2 separate regions of the Homo sapiens genome follow, and region 2 is reported to be linked to region 1. The links are microRNA targets in miRTarBase. Many come from high-throughput screens and were not tested one by one. Region 1 holds a microRNA gene; the other region holds the end of a gene's coding sequence.
What was found. The annotated mature microRNA hsa-miR-4786-5p reads UGAGACCAGGACUGGAUGCACC and lies in region 1 at 2,469-2,490, shown strand. An mRNA with a match to its seed (bases 2 to 7 or 8) in the 3' UTR can be bound and repressed. Matches are read on the target gene's strand: a 7mer-m8 pairs with bases 2 to 8, a 7mer-A1 pairs with bases 2 to 7 and ends in A, and an 8mer does both.

Region 1 (4,068 bases):
TGGCCATACGGGGTAGACTGCAGCCCTGACCGGCTCGGTGGGGCGCAGGGAGCCTCGCGGTGCAGCCTGCGTTCCGGTTGGGGTGTCCGCTCTTCCCCCGAGGGGCCTCCCAGCGTCTTTGAAAGGAGCTGGAGCGACGCTCAGAGGTGAGGAGCTTGGTCTGGGTAGCAAGGAGGCTCTGATTTCCTGTCTCCACTCAGCAGCAGCGTGACTTTGGGCAAATTGCTGATCTGTGAGCTCGTGTCTTCCTGGCTGCAAAGCAGGAGGAATGATGGCGCTGCCGCTGCGGTTGTGCAAATGAAGGAGCCCAGCGTCTGCAGAGCGGCCTGCTCAACGCCTGCCGGTGACCTGAGAAGTGGCTTGTCATTTCCTCCCCAGTCAGGCCCTCCTGCGGGAGGGGTGCCGGGGCTCTGATGGCTGTACACGTGCCTGGGTTTCTGTAGAGGATAGAGAGAGGAGAGGCAGGGAGGCTTGCCTGGGAGTCTGCTACCAAAACCATGGAATTCTGTCTCGGGGAGGCACCTTGCAATAAAGAAGCAGCCTCCACAGGCCCCCTGGGAAGTCACCCCCATGGCTGTGTCTGGAGATGAGCTCTGGGCGCGGGGTGCAGCCTGGGAGGGCCAGTGTGCCCCCCACCTAGGGTGGTCCTGCAGCCTTTGCCTTCTATTGCGGATGGTGGCGGGTTGGCCGAGCTTTGGGGACCAGTTTCCTCCAAAGTTACTATGGCCCCAAGGCTCTGGGGACAGGGGCAGGTGGCTCTGGGCGTGGACAGAGCTTGCTCCTTGAGCTGGAAACCCTGGCTAACGAGCGAGCAGAGGCCCTGGGACCACCAGGGGCTGTCGAGCTGCACTCTCCAGGCTGCCAGAGGCTTCCATTAGGCACACTGGTGTTTGATTTTGTTTCCTTGGAAGACCTGGAGTTTTTGTCGGTTCTGAGTCATTTTTCTTGATCCGCGCTGCCAGTTCCATGAAGAAAATCACTTTCAAACAGATGTGGAGGAAAGTGCACCTCCTCACTTGTCCAGACCCGGCCTGAATTCACATGGAAAGGTAATCATTTCCCGCCATGAGCTCACTGAGAGTCTGACAGCACTGTGAGGGGAGGTGGCCAGCCAGGCACCCAGCCTGAGCCGTGACCAGAGGTCCGAGCCAGAGATGCAGCCTTGGGATCTCAGCCTGCGGCGCTGGCCCTGGGGCCACACTCAGCATGGGGGACGCCAGGCTGGAGCAGACGCCAGACCCAAACAGCCGCTCTGCCCCCGGGGACTTTGGCAAGGCTGCTGCCTACGTGAAATGATGGAAAGGTCTAGGCTGGCCCCAGGTCCTTTCTGGCATGGCCTCAGGATCTTGGCAGGAGGATAACAATGCCAGGAGGGGGTGGGCTGAGTCATGTGCCTCCTCTCAGGGGCCTGGCTGCAGTGGTCAGGGGCAGGGTGGCTCATTTTGCGGGCACCGGTGCCCTGCACCTGGAGGAGGACCAGCAACAGGACTAGCCAGGTGGCCGCAGGCCCTTAGGACACAGGGGAGGCCCAGGATTTATGGGAAGGAAGGAGCAGAGCACCTGAGTCTGGGGACATCTCGGGACAGGCACTGCCCCCAGCAGCCTCAGCTTCCCCCCATAAAAGGGACAGACGCTGCCCCATGCCTTTAGCTCCATCACTGTCCAGGGACAGGGACTAAACCCTAGACCCCTCATCCCCAAGGAGTCTTGGACTGCAGGTCCAGCTCTGCAGAGGGGCTGCAGGGAGCATCCAGGGCCCATACTCGTCTGCTCATCTCTCAGTCTCTGTGTTTATGGAACACCAGGGGATGCCAGTGCTGTGCCAGGAGGGGCGGTCGGTGCTGAGTGAGGCCTGCTTCCCAAATCAGGCACATTCTTATGAGACTAAGATTTGTCCCTGCTCATGGACATTAAAAAAATGTCAAAGACAGCAGGATTAAGCGGAATCACAGTGTCCTGCCCCCAGTCCCTAACAGAATAGAAAGGAAAAACTAGAAAAATAATCCCAGCAGAAAACAAACAAGGCCATACACTTTGAAAATTTGTAGCCAAAGACCAGGTGTAGTGGCTCACGCCTGTAATCCCAACACTTTGGGAGGCTGAGGCGGGAGGATCACTTGAGCCCAGGAAATTGGGGCTGCAGTGAGCTCTGATTGCGCCACTGCACTCCATCCAGCCTGTGTGGCACTGTGAGACCCCATCTCAAAAAAAAAGAAAGAAAAATTAGTAGCCAATAAAATAAGCAAAAGATTTCAGAGTAGAGCAGAAGGCAGATTCGTGTGGCTCTGACCTGCCACCAAGCCTGAGTCCCACTGGTACACAAGCGGAGCCCCAGGCCGCCTCTGTGCTTGGGATCTGGAGACAGGGAGTCTTGCAATGCCTCTGGCAGACATGGGAAGATAACTGTGAGTTGAAACTCTCCGTAAGAAGTGGAGGCTCCAGGGATGCGTTGGCCTGTGGGCATGGCCTGAGACCAGGACTGGATGCACCACTCTCCCTGTGATGAGGTGAAGCCAGCTCTGGTCTGGGCCATTTCACAGGATTCCAGAAGCAGGAGCAGAGCCTCAGCATTTGAACGAACCTTCTTCCACTTCGGCTGAGCTCCTCCTGCCACCACCATCCTTGCAGGCTTCCCGAAGGTGGCCTGAACACAAACTGCCTGGGCTTCCTGTGGCTAAGAGGGGAAGACGAGCCTTTGCCAGGTTTTGTGGAAAGAGTTAAAACCCCTCCAGTGCTGTGTTAAAACATATGAGGACCCAGTCAGAGCTGCTCGGGCTTGAAGAGAATGGAAAGGCAGGGAAGGGGAGGGCAAGTGACAGGCAAACGTCCCACAGAGAAACCCGTGACTCAGTGCTGGAGAAGGGACCACAGCATGCGCAAGATAAACATGCGGAAGGCAGAGGACGCACAGCTCGTGAACAGAAAAAAAAAATATTCCTGTGCTTTGCCTAAGAGAACAGTTTGATAAGAACATGAATTCAATAAAATAAATGTCAACAACGTATAAGACTAAGAAATGAAAATAAGATGTCAGACCTCAGGAAGCAAACAGAACCGAAACAGTGTCAGAACCAAACCAATACATTTCAAACAGCAACAAACGACATAGCAAGGCTGAAATTGCTATTGACAGAAATCCATCGTTCTCCAAGTGTGGCTCCTGGACCAGCGGCCCCAGCCTCCACCTGGGAGCTTGTCGGAAATGCAGGTGTCTAGGCTGCACCCAGGCCTGCTGGCTCAGGCGCCCTGGTGGGTGGGCCCCAGCAGCATCTGTGTTTAGCAAGGTGATTGCAGCGCACACTACCGCGTGAACACCGCTGCCCTAGAGGAAAGGCTGAAGACAGCCACAGTAAGTAAAGGTAAACGTGGTAGAGGGATGAAAACTGTTGTGAACTTTGTATATGTAAAACTAATTTATAGGAAGGTGGACAAAGGCAGTCCGGCAAAAGAATCACTGGTGTTCAGACCAAAGTGATTCCAAGTGAAATAGTTTGTGCACACATGGTGTGATCTTTCAATATGCAGAATCCATTTGTTTTTCTCATTTCAGAGGATTTTAAAATCTAAGGTCCATACTGTTTTGGTGCAGAAAATTCACTAGTTTTACTTTCATTTGCTTATGTTGAAAACTGATATTAAAATAAATTAAATGTAATTTAAAATAGCATTGATAGATCCCATTTCATGAAAGCATACCTGTGTTTCTGTTGATATACAGGCATAAAAATATCAGGATGTTGTTCACTGATGTAGATGGTTTTTCTGAAGAGAGGAATTTGGAATTTTTTTTCCTTTCTTCCTTGAACCTTTTTTTCTTTTTTTTTTTTTGAGACAGAGTCTTACTCTGTTGCCCAGGCTGGAGTGCAGTGGTGCGATCTTGGCTCCCTGCAAGCTCCGCCTCTCAGGTTCAATCATTTTCCCACCTCAGCCTCCTGAGAAGCTGGGATTACAAACGTGCGCCATCATGCCCAGCTAATTTTTGTATTTTTAGTAGAGATGGAGTTTTACCATATTGGCCAGTCTGGTCTCCAACTCCCGACCTCAGGTGATCTGCCCGCCTTGGCCTTC
Region 2 (4,055 bases), not on the chromosome of region 1:
CTGCACCTCCACTTCCGGAGCCAAGCCTTACAGATACACAGGTCCAAAAACTCACACCTTCGTTGGAGCAGAAGAGCCTCATAGATGCCCATGTTCCAGCTGCCACACCTTTACCTGAGAGAGGAGGCTCTCTAGACATTCAGGGCCTCTCACCCACCCCAGTTCAGACCACCATGGTTTTGTCCAAACCAGGAGGCTCCTTAGCCTCTCACGTTGCCAGGTTGGAGTCTTCAGACTTGACGCCACCTCATAGTCCCCCACCTTCCAGCCGTCAGCTCCTGGGCCCCAATGCAGCTGCCCTCTCCAGATACCTGGCAGCCTCATATATCAGCCAGAGCCTGGCTCGGCGGCAGGGGCCTGGGGGAGGGGCCCCCGCAGCCTCCCGGGGCTCCTGGTCCTCTGCTCCCACGTCACGGGCATCTTCGCCGCCCCCCCAGCCCCAGCCACCACCTCCCCCAGCCAGGCGGCTCAGCTATGCCACGACGGTTAACATCCACGTGGGCGGGGGTGGGCGGCTGCGGCCAGCCAAGGCCCAGGTCCGGTTGAACCACCCTGCTCTCTTGGCCTCCACACAGGAATCTATGGGCCTTCACAGGGCCCAGGGGGCTCCTGATGCCCCCTTCCACATGTGAGCCAGGACATGAGGCTTCCCTGAAGCAAGGATTTCAGCCAGATGCCATAGACCCTCAGAACTTGACCTGGAAGTCCAGACACTGAACGCAGGCCTCAAAACTGCTGCGGCCTTCCAACTCCTGGTATCTGCATCGGCGAATGGCCCTTCTTGCCTTGATCCACAGGGATGGGGAAGGGAGGAATGTCATTAATGTTTTGTTAATACTGATTCTTTCATGCAATGATGTGTATTTTCCCATTCTGGAGGCTGTGGGAGATGACAAGACAATGAATGGGAAGGTCTGACACAGAACAAATCAGCGGTTCTGAAAGCTTGGGGAATCTCAGACTCCTTTGAGAATTATTGGAAAATGGACCCACTATAACTTGGCGTGTGTGTGAACTGCTTGATGCCCATCCAGGAAAGCCAAGTTAAGAAGCTTTGCTTCAAGTAGACACTAGAAATCCATTCCCTTGGCAATTTATACAGTTCACGTCTCCCACCATCCGTTCATCTCACCCACCCTGCCATCTCTCCACCTATCCATCTGGCTATTGCTCCATCTAGCTTTCCCGCTCCATCTACCCATCTTCCAATCCATCATCTCACGTATCTGCCTTGCTTATCCAACTGTCTGCCTTATTCACCCACCCATCCCTTTATCATTCTAACCCCATCTGGCATTCCATCCCTCCATTTATCCATCTTCCCACTTACCCATCTTCTCCATCCAGCACTCCGTTCATCAGTCCGTCTCTCCCTCCATATTTCCATCTGTCCATTCATCCACTCATTTTGCCATCCATACATATTCACCCAGCCATCTCCCAATCCATCGACATACCCCATCCCTCCCTCACTGGACTCTCCGGGGTCTTAGTACTATGATACTTCAGAGACAATTCCATGCTGATACGGGGGAGATCAATTTTGGGGCTCTGGGATAAGTCTGTCCCACATCTGTCTGATTTCCCTTGGCATCCTTCCCGTCAGTTCCTCTTGAATATCCCAGTTCTTGTACCCACTCACATACCTCAGATCCCTTCACTCCTCCCCGCAGTTTGCAGCCTCTACAATTCATCCACATGCTCCCTCCCCCAGCAAAATAATTCAGGTCGTGGAGACAAAAGGCTTTTATGTTAGGTTCTGTCTGCCCCCTTGTTCCAGCAGTGGTATGCCCAGTGAGAGGCACAATTTAAACGGTTTCTTTGGTGATGATATTAGCTACTTTCATCAAATACTTAGCCTCTTGTGCTTTAGCACATTATTTATGTAAGCTCCCCTAGGATTCTCTGAAGCACCCTGGTGTCCTGGCTGTGAATTCAAGTCCCATCTTTACTTATTTGGTGTGGGTCCTCCCTCTGAGCCGGTTTTCTCATCTACAAAATGAAGACAACAGTACTTCCCTCCTGGGATCATTGAAAGATTTAGGGAGCATATCCTTCCACTTCCCAAACATATTTGAACCTCTGACTTGCTTAGGAGCATCATTCAAATCACAGATCCCCCAGTATCTAGTCCCAACCTATTGAATCAGGATCCCCAGGGAAGGAGGAGCTTGGGAATCTGATTTTTTTTTTTTTTTTTAGATAAAGTCTCACTCTGTCACCCAGGCTTGAGTGCAGTGGCAAAATCTTGGCTCATTGCAACCTCCACCTCCTGGGTTCAAGCAATTCTCATGCCTCAGCTTCCCGACATAGCTGGGATTATAGGCGTGCACCACCATGCCCAGCTAATTTTTCGTTGTTGTTGTTGTTGTTTTGTTTTTGAGACAGAGTCTCGCTCTGTTGCCCAGGCTGGAGTACAGTGGCACGATCTTGGCTCACTGCAAGCTCCGCTTCCCGGGTTCACGCCATTCTCCTGCCTCAGCCTCCCGAGTAGCTGGGACCACAGGTGCCCGCCACCACGCCCGGCTAATTTTTTTGGTATTTTTAGTAGAGACGGGGTTTTACCATGTTAGCCAGGATGGTCTCGATCTCCTGACCTCGTGATCCTCCCGCCTCGGCCTCCCAAAGTGCTGGCATTACAGGCGTGAGCCATCATTCCTGGCTGGGAATCCGAATTTTTTTTTTTTTTTAGACGGAGTTTCGCTCTTGTTGCCCAGGCTGGAGTTCAATAGCATGATCTCGGCTCACTGCAACCTCTGCCTCCCAGGTTCAAGTGATTCTCCTGCCTCTAGCTGGGATTGCAGGCGCCCACGACCACGCCCAGCTAATTTTTGTATTTTGTAGTAGAGACGGGATTTCGCCATATTGGCCAGGCCATAGTGGTCTTGGACTCCTGACCTCAGGTGATCCGCCCACCTCGGCCTCCCAAAGTGTTGGGTTTACAGGCGTGAGCTACCATACCCTGCCCAGGAATCTGAATTTTTAGCAATCAGTTAGCAGCAAATAAGCTGAGATTTCCTGGGTACTAAGCACATACTATGAGCATTACAGCCGCTTTATATAAGCTCGTTCACTGTCCTCATTACATTCCTAATATGCAAGTGAGCATGTTTTTTAATCCTCAGTCTAGAGGTGAGGAAACTGAGGCAGGCACAGAGAGGCTAAGGGATTTGCCTAGTCGCACAGCTAGGAAGGTGCAGCACTGAGACTCGAATCCACACAGCTTGGCTTAAGTCTACCATTAAATTTGCCTGTCCTGGCCAGGTGCGGTGGCTCACGCCTGTAATCCCAACACTTCGTGAGGCCAAGGCAGGTGGATCACTTGAAGTGAGGAGTTCGAGACCACACCAGCCTGGCCAACATGGTGAAATCCCGTCTTTACTAAAAATACAAAAAATTAGCTGGGCGTGGTGGTGGGTGCCGGTAATCCTAGCTACTCAGGAGGCTGAGGCAGGAGAATCACTTGAACCTGGGAGGTGGAGGTTGCAGTGAACCGAGATTGCGCCACTAGACTCCAGCCTGGGAGACGAGCAAAACTGTCTCAAAAAAATAAAATGAAATACATAAATAAATGTGCCTATCCTGTGCCGGGTGCTGTTCTTGCCAGTGGGGATACATGAGAGAACACTGCCTTGCCCGCATGAGGCTTGTGGCCTGGTACTGTGCACACCTCAGGGGATTCTGATAATTAGCTGAGCACAGTTGCCAGCACAGGGCCTGGCTCAATAAATATTAGCTGCTGGCTTCTGCTCACTTACTGTTTATTGACTGGCTACTGTACACCAGGGCCGAGGCTGTGTCCCGGGGGCCCCGTGGTGACGGAGGTGAACTCCTCAGCCTGGAGTGATCCACTCCACTGGAGCCTCCCCAAGGTCAGGACCGCAGCCGACGCTCCCCTCCTCCGCCCCAGCTGCACATTCCCGGCTGAAGGAAAGTTCTCAGCCTGGCCCAGGCTCCCAGCGGCGTCGGAATTCCCGGTATTCGAGGAGGCAGGGAGGGAGAAGGGGCCTGTCTACTCCAAGGCCTGGAGCTGGGAAGGAGAGGCAAGCCCCTTT

Region 2: miRTarBase lists PLEKHG2 as a target of hsa-miR-4786-5p. Seed matches in the 3' UTR shown: 7mer-m8 at 2,580-2,586.

Annotation. Positions count from the first base shown.
Region 1 is chr2:239,941,485-239,945,552 of GRCh38, reverse strand. It overlaps MIR4786 (microRNA 4786), which reads left to right and starts at 2,459; the gene lies at 2,459-2,538. It also overlaps a transcript of NDUFA10 not described here. RefSeq lists enhancers at 1-83, 214-263, 1-768.
Region 2 is chr19:39,424,663-39,428,717 of GRCh38, forward strand. PLEKHG2 (pleckstrin homology and RhoGEF domain containing G2) reads left to right here. Exons shown (of 19, transcript NM_022835.3): 19 at 1-3,753. The coding sequence ends at 632. Among named protein-coding and RNA genes, the nearest start is that of RPS16, 9.3 kb to the right of the region's middle. RefSeq lists an enhancer at 3,391-4,036 and a silencer at 3,807-4,055.